Linked DNA regions of Homo sapiens: region 2 is linked to region 1. Evidence: fine-mapped expression QTL. A gene starts in region 1. The other region holds a variant in brackets. All regions are shown on one strand. Distances are from middle to middle. Region 1 holds the start of LIPC (lipase C, hepatic type). Region 2 has its middle 21 kb from the start of LIPC.

The links. PIP is the estimated chance that this variant, and not a neighbour inherited with it, causes the effect.
Region 2: its variant is fine-mapped to the expression of LIPC in whole blood (INTERVAL, PIP above 0.99).

The regions. Positions count from the first base shown.
Region 1 is chr15:58,428,059-58,436,396 of GRCh38, forward strand. LIPC (lipase C, hepatic type) reads left to right here and starts at 3,933. Exons shown (of 9, transcript NM_000236.3): 1 at 3,933-4,062. The coding sequence starts at 3,975. LIPC-AS1 (LIPC antisense RNA 1) reads right to left here. Exons shown (of 3, transcript NR_120338.1): 3 at 6,843-8,338. RefSeq lists an enhancer at 1,952-2,246 and a silencer at 1,952-2,246.
Region 2 is chr15:58,406,744-58,415,081 of GRCh38, forward strand. No RefSeq gene overlaps it. Among named protein-coding and RNA genes, the nearest start is that of LIPC, 21 kb to the right of the region's middle. RefSeq lists a silencer at 3,727-4,021. The variant T/A (reference allele first, on the strand shown) is at 4,211.

The DNA of each region.
Region 1 (8,338 bases):
TCTCTATTCTCTGTAACCCATCTAAATTCCTGACTCTTAACCCCTATTTTCAGGCCTTCTGGATTTCTTCTCCCCACCCCACCCCCAACCCCAGTAGTTATGCCATAGTTCTGGACAAATACAATAGCCAGGCATGGGGTCAGGGGAGTGTGACCTAGTCCTCTGTCATCAGTCCACATTGGTGGCCACTGAGGGGCCCATCCTCCCATCAACATGACCTGCTGGCCCCAGAGACTCACTGCTCTCCCACCCTACATCAAGCCAGGTATATCTTTTGCCCATGTGCCAACACAGCCATTTCCTCCCTGGGTTCTTCTCTTCCAGCAGGATTTCTGGGAAGCAAGGTACTGTCCCCTCTGCTCTCAGACCCATAGACAAACCTCCCCCTTCCACACCACCTGCAAAGCCCAAGAGAATGTCTTTCTAGTGATGGCAAGGTGAGGGGTTCCTTCTCCCTTCACATCCCCTCAAGAAATGTTAGTCTTTTGCTTTTCTTTGTTGGCTAGAATTCACCTGCCCACACTTTGGGAGGCCAAGGCAGGAGGATCACTTGAGCCCAGGAGTTTATGGCCAGCCTGGGCAACATAGGAAGACCCTGTCTCTAAAATAAATAAAATAAAATAATATAAAATAAAATAAAATTCACTTGCCCTAAGGTCCTATATTTTTGGAAGACAAAAGATTTGTAGCCTTCTCTCTACTTTGCCCCTCTTAAGTGGAAGGGAGACAGTTTGGGAGAAAAATAAGTTGATATCTCAAAATATTATCTCAGATACATGTTGTCCCCATTTTATAGGTGAGGAGATTGAACTCATTAAGGTTATATAATATTATATACAGCAAGTAGATAGGCCTAGGACCCCCCCAGTTCAGGAAATCTCATACTCTGTGAAGTCCTCCCCTCTTCCCTGCCAGTAGCCTCCCTGGTCAGCTTCAAGAAAACACAACAGAGCTTGTGCATTAAAACCACCACTGGAAGGTCAGACCCGGTGATGGGGCAGGCTGGAAGAGCTTAGGTAGAGGTGAAAGCAGACAACACCCTGAAAGGGGACAGGTACCCACTCCTCCTTGTCATTTTCCAGGAGAGCCTTATAGAATTTGAGTTGGCATGAGATGATGTTAGAGGAATTTGGGGTGGTGCAAGTAAAGGAACTACAAGAGCTAGAAACAATCTTGAAGGCTTCTTCCCATGTTGAAAGTGTTCTTACCACGTAGAAAGTGGTAAGAAAGTGTACTCTGCAGAAATTTGGGGGGCGGGTGGGGGCACACGGTTGGTATTTCAGAGGCACTTGGATTCACTGGTGTCTTTTGATGAGTTTGTGTCCCGAATAAAATGGGGAGTGGCGGTGGTTACTGGCAGTACCCAGAGGAGAGGAGATGAGGGTGGGCACAGGGGAGAGGAGCCCGAGATGGGTAGCCAGCTGGTCTTACGTGCCAGCTTTATAGGAAAAAAAGTGGAACTTTCAGATTCTGCTTAACTGTGCAGGAGCCAGCCAAGTATCCAAGGCAGAAGTCCTTGCTCAGAAATTGTATATCTGATGGGCACGGTGACTCACGCCTGTAATCCCAGCACTTTGGGAGGCCGAGGTGGGTGGATCACAAGGTCAGGAGTTAGAGACCAGCCTGACCAACATGGTAAAACCCCGTCTCTACTAAAAATACAAAAATTAGCCAGGCATGGTGGTGGGCACCTGTAGTCCCACCTACTCTGAAGGCTGAAGCACTAGAATCGCTTGAACCTGGGAGGTGGAAGTTGCAGTGAACCGAGATCGCGCCACTGCACTCCAGCCTGGGCGACAGAGCAAGATTCCATCTCAAAAAAAAAAAAGAAAAAGAAAAAGAAATTGTATATCTGACGGGATGGTCCGCAAGCTTCGGGGCTTGGGAGGAAGGTACAGTCATAGGACAGAACACAGCTTTAGACTGGGTCAAGATCGTCCAAGTCTGGTGGTGGCTTCAGAAGGCCCTTTGAATGAGGCTCGTCCAGGCAATAATTACCATGTTATCTAATTTTGCCCGCTTAACGTTTCCACTTGGATGTCTAAGAGCCATCTCAAAGCCCCACGTGGCCAAGGCTGAATCTCTAATCTTCCCCCAACAGACCTGCTTCACTCACAGCTTCCCCTTCTCAGCTGACAGCAACCCCATTAATCTGCTTGTTCAAGCCAAAAAACCTGGAAGTCATCCTTAACTCCTCTCTTTCTCCCACATCTCACAACTCAGCAGTCAGAAAATCCTGTGGGCTCTACCTTCAAAATATATCCACCACCCATCCACCACTCCGCAGTTGCCCTTTACCATGCTGGGCCACGCCACCATCACCTCTCACTGGGCCACTGTAATAGCCTTCTAACAGATCTCCCCACTGCACCCTGGCTCACTTGCAAACCAGAGTGATATTTTAAAACTATAATACAAATCATATCACCCTTCTGCTCAGAGTCGCCCCCCATGTGTCAATGCATAAAAGTCAAAGTCCTTACAATGTCTCCCCATTCATTGGCCTCCTTGCTATTCCTGGAGCACACCAGGCATACTCCTACCTCAGGGCCTTTGCACAGACTGCCCGAAGCTCTCCTCCCCAAGACGTCCACAGGGGCAACTCCTTCACTTCCTTCAAACCTTTGCTGAAAGTTTAACTTCCCAATGCAATTCACTCTAACCACTCTGCTTAAAATCCCTACCTTCTCCCCAACCCCCTGCTTTTCTTGTAGTGGTTCCCATTACATTCTACCAGTCTACCTAATTTTTTTTTTTTTTTTTTTGAGACGGAGTCTCTCTGTGTCGCCCAGGCTGGAGTACAATGGCGCGATCTCAGTTCACTGCAACCTCCGCCTCCCAGGTTCAAGCGATTCTCCTGCCTCAGCTTCCTGAGTAGCTGGGATTACAGGCACTCACCTCCACGCCCAGCTAACTTTTGTATTTTTAGTACAGATGGGGTTTCACCATGTTGGTCAGGCTGGTCTCGAACTCCTGACCTCGTGATCCGCCCTCCTCGCCTCCCAAAGTGCTGTGATTACAGGAGTGAGCCACCGCTCCTGGCCAGAAATCTCTTCTTTATTATGTCTACTGTCCGTTATCCAACTCCAGAAGGTAAGAACCTCCACTGATACATAAGGACTTGTATACCCCACGTGCCTGCAACAGTGCTTGGCACCTAGTAGGCATACCAAAATATATAAATGTTGAACAAATGAAGAAAGTTAAAGTAAAACTAGAGGTCCAAAAATATCACAAAAGCCATCTATGGTCGCCTTTTCCCTACCTGATTTTGCTGAGTGGCCTTACTTTTCAGTCCTCTACACAGCTGGAACATTAATGAACACAGAGGGGGAAGAAGTGTGTTTACTCTAGGATCACCTCTCAATGGGTCACTTGGCAAGGGCATCTTTGCTTCTTCGTCAGCTCCTTTTGACACGGGGGTGAAGGGTTTTCTGCACCACACTTTGACCACAAGCATCACCAATTTCACTGAACCCAACAGAAATTTGGACCCTCTGGGGGCTCTCTGCGTGGCAGGGCCCTTTTCTTTTTCTTTGGGCTTAGGCTGCAATTTGAAACACCACTTTCCTGAGCCAGCATCCCCCTTGCAGCGCTGTCACAGGGAGGCTTAGGCAGCCACGTGGAAGCCACCTACCCCGACCTTTGGCAGAATTTCCAAACACAACACAGTAGCTTTAAGTTGATTAATTTGGAACTCTGACCTTGGCCCCAAAAGGTAAGAATACATAACAAGGTATTTTATTCTCAAAATGTGTCAGGATAAGAAGCACTTCTGTAAATCGACCTTTTTAAAATAGATATAATTAGATTTGCAGTTGGGGGCAGTAAAGAAAGGGTCTGAACAGTGGATAACATGTTGAGAGGTTAATTATTAATGGGCAGTCTTCCCTAACAAAGTATCTAATAGGCATTGTGGTCTCTTTGGCTTCAGAAATTACCAAGAAAGCCTGGACCCCGGGTGAAACGGAGAAATGGACACAAGTCCCCTGTGTTTCTCCATTCTGTTGGTTTTATGCATCTTTATCCAATCAAGTGCCCTTGGACAAAGCCTGAAACCAGGTAAGAGCCTGACTTTTCTCCAGAGATGGGCATGAACTTTTCTTTTTAAAACGTGTGTCACAAAGAATCCAGGGGTTTCTGACTGTATGGGACAGAGCTTGCTTCAGAGCGTGCCAGGTGGTTCTATACACGACCTCACAGGTTCACAGGGACACGTAGCCGTTTGTAAACAGAAATGAAATTTTAGAAAATCATCCTCGGATTAAAAGTCTTCTAAGAGTGCCTGCAGCTAGCAGTGAAGTCTCTTGCGTATCTGATATGGAAACAGTCATGCTAAAAGTTATTCAGCGGCAAATGATATGAAAGCGATTCAGATCTTCCTGAGAGTTAATGTGGCATCTAATTTGCAACCGGGGAGCCAGGCTTGCAATGAAATGCTCTGTCGGGTTGGGGTTGTCTAATTGCCTGCCTCTCTCAGAAGAGAGGGGAATTTATGAGAGTTCTATTTCCAGTCAGGTCTAAAGTAGAGATATCATTGCACAATTTCTAGACTTTGTTTTGCTGCCAAAATTTTAGTCTGAGGCTGAAGAATCCAACAGCCGTCCTGCCTGTTTTGTTTGTAAATTCACAAACTAGATTGATGGCGAAAGACAGATCAAATGCCTTATCAGGAAGGTAGTAGAGTGGAGCCCAGCTTCCAGGCTAAGCAGTGGACCAATAAATGACGGATCAGTTAATTGAACAATTTGGCCAGACTAGACAGGTGTTTGGGAATTTGTTTTGGTACTGGTTACTGGTCAGGAGCTAGTAACGCTAAGGTAGAGTCTGAGATTTTTCTTTTCTCTAAGACTAGCCTTGGAGAGAGCTCCGACAACTTTGAGAATTAGAAATTCCCTAACGGGATGTACCTAAAAATTTCAGAAGCTTTTTTCCCCTTTAAGAAAAAGGCTGTTCCTTTGTATTTGACTATTTTACTTCATAGGCCAGTTAATAACTGAGTAGCAGTATTAATTATTGCCATTCACTAAGTATTTTCTGTGCCAAGCACTATACTAATTATTTTTGACACATCATCTCATTTATAAAGCCACATCCAAAAATGACCCTTACATAATAATTTAGAGCCATACAGGTAAAATTGCTGGTAATCTTTATTCCCTTGGTTCATAGTGATTTTGCTAAAGGGCCTTTCCTGCCCTTTGCCCCGGAATGTTGTATTTGTTTGTTTACTTTTTAATGAAGTTTATAACACACTTCTAGAAAAGGGCCTCTATCATAAATCCTCAATGAGTTCTCACAAACTGAACCAGTACCCCAAAGCCTTCCTTGTGTGCCCCTTGAGCCTTAACATATATGATTTTTTCCTTTGGGGAGATTTTTCATTAATAGAAACACATCAGTTGCTCTTTTGCGTCTGGCTTCTTTCGTTCGACATTATGTTTGTGAAAGTCAACCATGCAGTTTCGTGGAGTTGAGGCTCATTCATTCTCACTGCTGTAGCATTCCACTGCGGGACCATGCCACACTTCCTTTATCCATTCTACTGTGGATTGGCCAGGACTGTTTTTGCAATGGAGCCATGGGAATTGGAAGCTGTCAGTGCTGAGATAGAGGTTGAAGGGAGGGATGGCCTCCCCCAGGCTTCTGGGTATTGTCCAGATTTTCCTTGAGCAATCTCATTGTCCTGATCAGCCTGCTTCTTTCCCCGGGGCCTAGTTTGTGCAAATGCTGAGAGAAGTGGCCACTATTAGCAAGAGGGTTCCTCAGAAAAGAGGATCCAAGTCAGGAGGCCTCTTGTTCTCTTGGAAGCAGAATCTCTTGGCAGAATTCTTTCTGCAATGAGTGAGCCCAATCTGTGTGCATGTGGCTGGTATGATGTCTTTCTGGGGAAACCGCAGGGAAGCCGGTGTCCTGTGGTGGAGCCCTTGTCAGGAAAGTTTCTACACCAATGGTTCTCAACAGGGGCAATTTTGCCCTCCAGGGGACACTTGGCAATGTCTGGAGACATTTTTGGTTTTTGGTTGTTAAGACCAGGGAGAGAGTGCTTCCCTTCCAGCATCTAGTGGGTAGAGGCCAGGGAAGCTGCTTCACATCCTACAATGCACAGGACAGCCCTCACAACAATGAATTGTCTGGCCCAAAACATTATTAGTGCAGAGGCTGAGAAACCATGATCTATGCCAAGCTTCAACTGTCACTCATCGAGCACCAGGAAGTACTCCCTCAAGGACCCTTCCTCTTTAGCCCCTCCTCCCAGCCTACTTCTTTTGAGTATTTATTATTAATGACATCTTACTAATGGAGTCACTAATGTGCTGCACACCCAGCATGTGCCAGGCACTCCACGGACATTTTATCTCATCCTCACCATATGGTTGAGTAAGCTGGCAGTTAAGTGCCTTGCCGGCGGTCGCATAGCTGGTCAGGGCAGAGCAGGGAGAGGTACCTGCAGCCTCAATCTGTCTACTGAGGCCGCAGTGCTCTGTGTCGAGCCCACACCCAGTGATTTGACAGCCAGAGGTTTCTAGAAAAACATTCTGCTCAGTTCCTCTCACAGAGAGGGAGATTTAGACAGTTGTTCCTGCCCTTCAGCACTAAGGGGGACTGGATAGCGTGAGCTGCTTGAAGCCCACATGGCACATCACACTTATGCCCAGCCCCAATGCCTGAGACCCAGGTTCCCCAGTCGGTGTTGCCATGAGAGCCAACGCTGCTCCTAGACCCTGGCAAGTCCCACCTTCCCGGTACTGGGCCCACTATCAACAGGCACCTTCTCCCTCCCCTCCACCCCAGCCTCAGCTTGCAAATCCTAGGAGCAGCTGAAAGCTACCTATTCAGTCAGTCCCTCATGAGTGTCACAAGCATACATGAGCACCTGCCATACGTAACGCAGTGCCTGAGTACAACTCACACACTCTGTTCACACGTTTCCTCTCTTAAAAATCACTGAGGACCCCAAACAGTGTTTATTATGTGAGATATCAATATTTCCTTCATTAGAAATTAAAACTGAGAAATCTTTAAAATCTGCTAACACTTTTTAAAATGATAATAAACCCTTGCATATTAACACATATAATGTAATTTTATGAAAAATAACTTGTATTTTCCAAATAAGTTTTAAATGGAGAAGAGTGACATTGTTTTACAAAGAAATGTTGCAAATCTCTCTAATATCTGGCTTCCCAAGACAGCTGGATTATCTTACCTGTTTCTGTACTCAGTCTGTTGTGATGTATTGCTTTGTTTGAAATGTAGGAAGAAAATCTGGCCTCCCATAGAGGAAAAGGGAGGACATCCTAAGGCGATCTCCCTGGGGCCTTGGCCTGCAAACCACTGCGCTTGTGCAGTGGGCACTGTACAACAGGGGGCTGCACAGCCGTCCCCACCTTGCAGGAATTTACAGTCAAATGGGGTGGGAGTGGGGTGGGGAGGGAATAGGGGGCCATGGGACTGGGTGGAGGGGGGATGTGCCATCAATAAAAGAGCAACCGTCTGTGGAGAATTTAAATACAAATATAACCAAAAGCTGATCTGCCTGTCATTATCACAATTATAAAGAATGTCAGCCGGGCGCCGTGGCTCACGCCTGTAATCCCAGCACTTTGGGAGGCCGAGGTGGGTGGATCACCTGAGGTTAGGAGTTCAAAACCAGCCTGGCCAACATGGTAAAATGCCATCTCTACTAAAAATACAAAACATTAGCCAGGCTTGGTCATGGGCACCTGTAATCCCAGCTACTTGGTACGCTGAGGCAGGAGAATTGCTTGAACCCGGGAGGCAGAGGTTGCAATGAGCCGAGATGGCGCCGTCGCACTCCATCCTGGGCAACAAAGTGAAACTCCATCCCAAAAGAAAGAGTATCAGCGATAAAGGCAAAGCTCTTTCCAGAAAAAAATGGTTTTATGGCCTAAGTTCTAAACAATCTCCGTGGTTACTGTTGGATTTTATGTAGTAAGTATATGTAAGCTTCAAATTCATCACATCTTTATTATTTATCCTTTCATAAATATTGTGTTCTACATTGACATTAATCTGGAGAACTCCCGGTTATGCACTTGGCCCCAACATGCACAGACTCAGGGGCGTGTTCTTGTTGCAAGAGTAAGTGTGCGATGGTTCAGATCCTTTGACGTCCTTATGTCTCCAACCTCAGTGGCACTTATTACCTGCTTCTGCATGTAAACAGTAGATTTGAAACAAAAAATGATAGCGTAGTGGTTGTACAAACAAAAAACCAGAACTTGAATTATTTCAATTCTCTCATCCTAGGTGACCCCTGTAAGCTTCTCATATGTGTTTAAAATTTAAAGCAACAAAACAGATTGTGAACAAT
Region 2 (8,338 bases), 21 kb before region 1:
CTTTCCCGTCCTCTCCCTCCACCCTCACTATCCCCACCCCATCTCCTCAGCCTGCACCACGCTCCCCCACGGACTATGAAGAATGCAGACTCACAGGGAGTTTCATAGTGTTTTCTTGCAAAAGTACTGAGTATAGCCAGATTTCTCATGTGGATTTTTCACTGGTTTGTTTCTGTTAGGCAAAACGGAAGGACAAGGGTTGATGGAGAAGGGAGGCACATCTCATACAGCTTCCTCACAGCAGGTCCTAACACTGTCCATTGTGTTTAGAATGAGCCTTTATGTGGCTTTCCATGGGTTTCTGGTGAAAAATCACAACCCTCTCTGAGACGGAGATGCCCCATCACCTGTTCTTTCACTGCATTATTTTCTGTTTCACTGCCTCAAACCAGACTCAGACCTCCAGTGCTCTTTATTTCAATTACTTTTACCTGTTTTATGACATCTATTTGGGTTTAACTTTTGGTTCCTCCACCAAAAAGTCTGAAATTCCAGGTCAGAGTTCTCCAAGGAGCTTATATGTGTTTGCACAAACATGTGGAAATCCTTAGGAACTACCAATTATCAACCACTCAGAACTCAGTGCCTTGGTATTTTTTGCTGTTGTGGAGGCTTGTGTTTACCTTTTATTTTAAGCACTTTCCAGCCCATCCTCTTGAAGCACCTGGCCTTACCAGGGGCCTTGCTCATTTGTTCTTGCTGCCTCCTCCATTCAGAAGACCCATCAATCAGTGTCTGAAACAAGGACCTTCTGTGTAGAATCAAAAGCCACCACATCACAGCTGAAGGCAACAGAATGCAGTGGGCATTGTTGTTTGTACACAGGCCTTCGTCTCTTTCAGAAGTGTCTCTGTTTGAAATGAATGAGGCAGACAAGAGTGTGGCTTCAAAAGCAACTCTCCCCCTCTGGGCTTTGCTTATTGAAAGTCCTGTGAGCACTGTTACTAGAAAGTAAAGAGAATAAAAGGCAAACCTGAGGCAGGCTACAGGTTCCCAGGCAAGGCAGTCACATCCAGCCTCAGCCAGGCAGTACCGCCAGTCATTGGCCTTCACTTTGTCTATTTGAGTTTGCAAGGTTAACATGAAAGAGGCTGTTTATTTTCTCCCAACGATTATGCTTAAAAATTACATGAACTTCCCTCACCGAGACCCTTGCCCAGATGTACAACAGGCTTCTCTCTCTGCCGGTACCTCTTAAGGGTGTCATTGCTGATGGAACTAGAGCTACCTTCACTACTGTTGCCATGGTTACACTTTCTGTACCAGAAAATTGGCTGATCCTTGGCCCAGCTCTCCCACCTGGCTATCATCTCCTCTGCAGCAGGAGGCCTCCTTATTCCCTGATCTATTTTGTGTTTGGCTGGAAGATTGGCGAGCACATAGTTTTCCATGGTACTCATGACCCTTCTGTAAACTCTTAATGACCCTAATGTTGATTAGGACCCAAAGTCTTGGGCCAGTGGAAAAGTTAAAACAAAGTTCAAGACTCATATAGATGATGATCCCAATAATCATCTACATGGCTTGAGAATCATCACCTCCATCTTTTGTCTGCAGAGGGTTTGCAATGAGAGCTAGAGAGTTCAGAGCCAAATATCTGGCCCATCACTGGGAAGTATAAAAGACTGTACAACATATATTTGAAGTGTAATTTCATTTATCAATTCACTATATTTTTCCCATCCTTTTTTCCTACTTAATTTTCCTCTTAATGTCTTGCATTGTTTTTATCTTTTAAAAGTGCTTTAAATTCTTTTGAAGCAAAACTAAATATAAGGAAAACATAGGCATAATCATCAAAAATCCATTGGATTCTTGCTATTATGAGGGGAGGGGGAAAAGTACAAAGGTTTTTCTGTCCAAAAAGAGACAATTCACTTAATGCAAAGTACCTGGAACATATTCTGTGTAAAATCAAATCGAATAATTTTATATATATTTTCTTTTGAAAAAAATACACGATTAGATTCAAGAAAAATTGAATTTCTGGTACAAAGGAGGAATAAGGACATGGCCTTCCTAATCCAAGAAGCTCCATGAATAACTAGGGGCCTGCTTTCTTTCACACAAGAAAGCTGGGTAGTACTTTCAAAAACCTGAGATGGATGGGGCACAGTGGCTCATGCCTGTAATCTCAGTACTTTGGGAGGCTGAGGCGGGCATATCACTTGAGATCAGGAGTTCGAGACCAGCCTGGCAAACATGGTGAAACCCCATCTCTACCAAAAATACAGAAATTAGCCAGGCATCATGGTGCATGCCTGTAGTCCCAGCTACCTGGGAGCCTGAGGCAGGAGAACTGCTTGAACCTGGGAGGTGGAGGTTGCAGTGAGCCAAGATCGCACCACTGCACACTAGCCTGGGAGACAGAGCAAGACTCTGTCTCAAAAAACAAAAACGAAAACACAACCTGAGATGGACCATGTGAGCAGGTGATACCATCAGGGAGTGCTCAGTGTGTTCTAAAAATCGCAGTGTCTGGCACACAGCAAAAGCTTCACAAATATACACCAAATAAACAAGGAAAATAAGTAAAAAACATTATGCCTGCATGCTAAATAAATTCACAGATAATCTTCAAATTAACCTGGGTAGAAATGATTTAGCAATACTGAGAAAAGTGGATGCTATCAAGGGTGTTAGTTATTTTAATCCTCTTGACAACACTTTTAGATATTTTTATCTCCAGTTGTTTTTCAGATGAGATTGAGGAAGATTAAGTAATTTGTGCAAGACCACATAACGAGCAAGTGAAAGACCCAGGACTTGAGCCCAAGGCTTTCTAATTGTAAAAGTAGAATCTATCCCCTCAGTCTACTCCACTGTTGCCCAAGCTAATGTTAAGAACACAAATCCGGCTGGGCACGATGGCTCATGCCTGTAATCTCAGCACTTTGGGAGGCCGAGGTGGGTGGATCACTTGAGATGAGGAGTTTGAGGCCAGCCTGGCCAACATGGTAGAACACCGTCTCTACTAAAAATACAAAAATTAGCCGGGTGTGGTGGTGTGTGTCTGTAGTCCCAGCTAAGCAGGAGGCTGAGGCAGGAAAATCACTTGAACCTAGGAGGTGGAGGTTGCAGTAAGCCAAGATCGCGCCACTGCACTCCAGCCTGGATGACAGAGTGAGACTCTGTCTCAAAAAAACAAACAAACAAACAGAAAAAGAGACCACAAATCTGAGGCCCCATCCCAGACCCACTGAAGCAGAATCTCTAGGGAGGAACTTAGAAACATTTGTGTAACAAGACACCAGATGATGATTATTATCAGAGAAGTTTAAAAAAAAAAAAAAAAAAAAGACACCTCTATTGCATCAGATGGGAAATGGACCTACAGCATCCTCTGAGGGATCAAATAAAAGCCATCAGATTTGAAGTTCATACAAGTAAAAATAAATCAGGTCAGTCTGGAGCATATCAGATTATGATATTATAGACTATTCTTCAGTTTGGTAATATAGAATTGTCTGATTTAAGGTTTTCTGGATCTTAAAATACCAAGAACATTTGAAAAGTTAAAAATGGGTTCCAATTTAAACCTCAGACTTTTTTTTAGCTTTCCTCACTGCCTCTGATCCTGAGGAGCAGAAGTGAATGTGAACGCACTTTGAATTCCTAGCAGCTTTCACTGATGCAGAGGTTCCAGCTGTACAGGGGCTGGAGGACTGCTGAGGAGAACAACAAGCTGAGAATCAGTCCTCATCTCTGGTTGCCCCCCACCCCACCCTCATTGCCTTTCATTGGATGAGCAAGTCACACAATCCAGGAAGTGGAAAATCTATCATCGCTTGGTTGGTTTTTCTTAGTTTCAGTTTTTCCACGCCTGATGAGAATTGCCAAGGCACAGCAAAGCCTGCAGCTTCCATACCCGTCATGAGAGCAAATAACTTATTTGTAAACCTAAGCACTTAATTAACTAAATGGAAAGCAAGGCAGTGAGTGATTCCTGACATGGCCGAATTTAAGTCAAGCTGTGAAGCTCCAGGTGCAGCCAGAAATGGAGATGGACAACTTGAACTGAACCCTGAGAGCTTCTAAAAAGGCTTTGGACCACTGCTTCTCAGCAGTTTTTCTTGTAAGTTATTCCCATTATCTCAAAGAAAAATTTAAAATATGGTTGGAGAAAAGTATAGAACTGATTATCCCCATTTTGAGCATAGATCATCGTTTAACCAACTTGCTTTCTAACTGCCAAGAAACTTGCTTTGGA[T/A]GGTATTTCCAGACATAATGTCTATCATAGCAAATATTGACAATTGCATTTTACAAATAATCAGTTTAATATGCTTTAATATGCTTCTATTTCTGATTGCTCTTGATCTCATTTAATCTTCGAAGCAACTCTATCACGTTGGTGTGCTTATTAACATTATTTTACAGATAAAGACGCCTGTAAGTAGCTTCCTCACAGGGTATTTAAGGAACTTGTAGAAAGTCCACAGCTAGTAGCTGGGAGCCCATCTCATATCAATACACTAGCTTCTCCCCAAAGAACTTTATATATTTAGGCCATTGATTTCTTTTTTTTTTTTTTTGAGACGGAGTCTCACTCTGTCACCCAGGCTGGAGTGCAGTGGCAACATCTCGGCTCACTGCCACAGCTCCACCTCCCGGGTTCACGCCATTCTCCTGCCTCAGCCTCCCGAGTAGCTGGGACTACAGGCACCCGCCACCAGGCCCGGCTAATTTTTTGTATTTTTAGTAGAGACGGGGTTTTATCGTGTTAGCCAGGATGGTCTTGATCTCCTGACATTGTGATCCGCCCACCTCGGCCTCCCAAAGTGCTGGGATTACAGGCGTGAGCCACCGCGCCCGGCCTTAGGCCATTGATTTCTAAAAAGACAAATTCTCATATTGGATTAAAACATAAGACCCAACAATACGTATGTTGCTTAAAAATAGGAATCTGTTACCCAAAAAATGCAGAAATGCTAAAATAAAAAGGTTTAATGAGGAAACTCATACGACAAAAAGAAAATAGTTGGTAAAGTTGATAGCATATAAAAGAGATTTTGAAGCCAAAAACACAGGGAGAGGATACAAAGAAGCTCCTGATTATGATAAAAAATAGAAAATCAACTGTGAAGACAGAGGTTACTAAAGTCAGAAATGCAAAGAGAAATAGAATAAAAAACAAGCAATTGTAAAGGGAGAGTTTAATTCATTTCAAGGCTAAGAAAAAAATAGACAAGAGTAAAAAATAAAGACAAATTTAAATAGACAAAAATTTAGAAGACATTGAAGACGTGACAAAAATAGACAATAGAGGTTATGTTATACAATTGATAAGTTAGAACCAATAGACATACACTGAACTCAATACCAACATAGATTACACATTTTTTTCCATATGGGGGCATTGGTACATATATACTAACTCTCAAATAAGGCCCTAAAAATTGAATCAAGAGGAAAAAATATACATATTTTCTCACCACATGCAATAAAGCTAAATGTGAATAAGTAAAAGCAATGAAAGGAGCCTTGGGCAAAAGAATAATCTAACCAAGAGCCTTTGCAGCAAACAGTTCGGGGTTTAGATTATAAACTACATTCCTTACTGCAGTGTGACCTGGGCAGTTTACTGAACCTCTCTGAACCTTGGATTCCTCATCTAAAAATGAGGCTCTACCTTGCAAAGTTGTTATGAAGATTACCTATAAGTATGTCAAATAAACTAAGACTTAAAAGAGAGTTAAAACCGTAAGCCGTACAATATAACTCCATTTTTAATGTACTCATATTTAACTAGAAAAAGTATCTAGAGTTTTTGTCGATTGAAAGCAAAAGTCTATAAAATATTCATCTAAATACTAACAGTGGTTATCTCTGTGCACTGATATTTCTGCCAATTTTTGTTATATTGCTTTATCTTTTCTACTATGAATATATAGTATGTGAATAATAAAAAATAGTAAATTTGAAAATAAACATGAACTTCTGAAAAACAGAGTACAAGAAGAAAATAAATATTTACTCTTGGGTGGCCTACAGATGGTGGTTGCGGTAGGCATACAGCCATCTCAGTTTCTTGTCTGTCATTGTAAATTCTAAAATACCCTCAATTTCTGTCTTTCTACATATATACACGTATACGCACACACATATATAAAACACACATATATTTTATATTTATATATGTTTTATATATATGTTTTTAATATATGTTTTATATATATTAAAAAACACAATATTGGGATAACTGACAATTTGAATGTGGATGGTGGGATTAATCATATGGTATCATGAAATTTCCTGATTTTACTGTTAAATTTCTTGAATTTTATAAAAGAAAATATTTGTGTCCAGAAATATATATTGAAGTATTTAGATATATATGTATGTATGCAGCTTACTCTCAAATTGTTCAGAAAAACATTCACATATCCATAAAGACAGAGTGAATGATAACTAGGGAAAAATACAAACCAACAGTGCACCTAGGTAAAGGGTGTATAGGAGTTCATACTAGTCTTTTAACATTTCTGTAAGTTTAAAATTATATTAAAATATTAATAAAAAATTACAGCAGCAACAAATTAATGGGTATCAATGTCTAACAACCACAAAAACTTTCCTAAACTACAAGTTCAAGTAGAACAGGGGTCTCCAACCCCCAGTACCAGTGTGTGGCCTGTTAGGAACCTGGCCACACAGCAGGAGGTGAGCAGCAGAGCTTTATCTGTATTTACAGTCGCTACGCATCAGTCACATTCACACTAAACTCCGCCTCCTGTCAGATCAGCAGTGGCATTAGATTCTCATAGGACCACAAACCCTATTGTGAACTGTGCCTGTGAGGAATCTAGATTGCATGGTCCTTATGAGAATCTAATGCCTGATGATCTGTCACTGTCTCCCATCACCCCCAAACAGGACCATCTAGTTTCAGGCAAACAATCTCAGGCCTCCCACTTATTCTACATTACGGTGAGTAGATTATAGTTATATCATTATTTCATTATATATTAACAATGTAATAATAATGGAAATAAAGTACACAATAAATGCAATATGCTCAAATCATTCTGAAACCATCACGCATCCACCCCCATTCATGGAAAAACTGTCTCCCACAAAACTGGTCCCTGGTGCCAAAAATGTTAGGGACCAGTGAAGTAGATAATTAAGAACATGATAACAACTTTTGAGATGTTTATAAAATTGAAAACACCCCATATCAAAAGGGAGGGGGCTTTGTATAAATCAGAGCCCAGAAGTTAAGGCGTAAATCTATGTGCTTTTATTTTAGAAATATGAAATAAACATTTGACTTAAAATCTTATGAAGACAGTCAATATAAAGGAAAATAGATAATAATAAAGAGTAAGGACAGAAATAAACTAGAAAAGAGGAAATCAGTGGAAATAATACATAAATTTAGATGCTCATTCTGTGAGAAGATTATAAGATAGATCAATCCCTTGGAAATACAATAAATAAAAGAAAAGGTATAAATCAACAAAATTAAAAACAAGGCTAGTGATTTAACAACCGATACAAAAGATTTTAAAATATAAATGATTGCAATGCAAAATTTATGATAATCAACTTGAAATGCTTAGCCAAATGGACAACACAAAATATTAACTGGCAAGAGAAAATGTAGATAACATGAAAATAATGATGAAGGCAAAGGAAACTGAAAAGCTGTTATTTAAAAAAATCTCATCTACCACAAGAAATATTATGACCTCAACAAATTTACTGAACAATATTACTACATACTCAAGAAACAGATTTTTCTGTATTATGTAATCAGTTCCAAATCACAGAAAAACAAGATCTGATACCCAATTCATTCTAAGAGATGAGTATTATCCCCATCCACAAACCTGTGAGAAATACCACACAGGCGCACACACACATAAACACACGGTCTTAGGATGGCAAATGTGCACAAGTGCCAATTCCTATAAAACTGGCTCGAAATGATTAGAACCAGGCTCAAAGATATTAGCAGATTTTCCCAAAACAGCTGCTGAATAAGTGAATATATGAATACACAGATGAAGAAAATAATGCAGGCAATTAGCAACATCTACTAAAGACCTAAAAGGCAGGAATGGCTTGTGCATACTGTCTATTTGCTAAATTTTATTGATCAATAAATTTTATCTATCCATGGGTTACTCAAGGAGCATAGGCAGAAAAATCATTTTTAACTGAGCTTATAAAATACAGCTATAAATTAAAACAATAGCATGTAGCCACTAATTAAGGTAAATTCTACTGATGCCAGAAGATTATAACAAATCACAGAATATCTTTTGTAAAGGAATTACTATTTGGGCTGGACCCAGTGGCTCATGCCTGTAATCCCAGCACTTTGGGAGGCCAA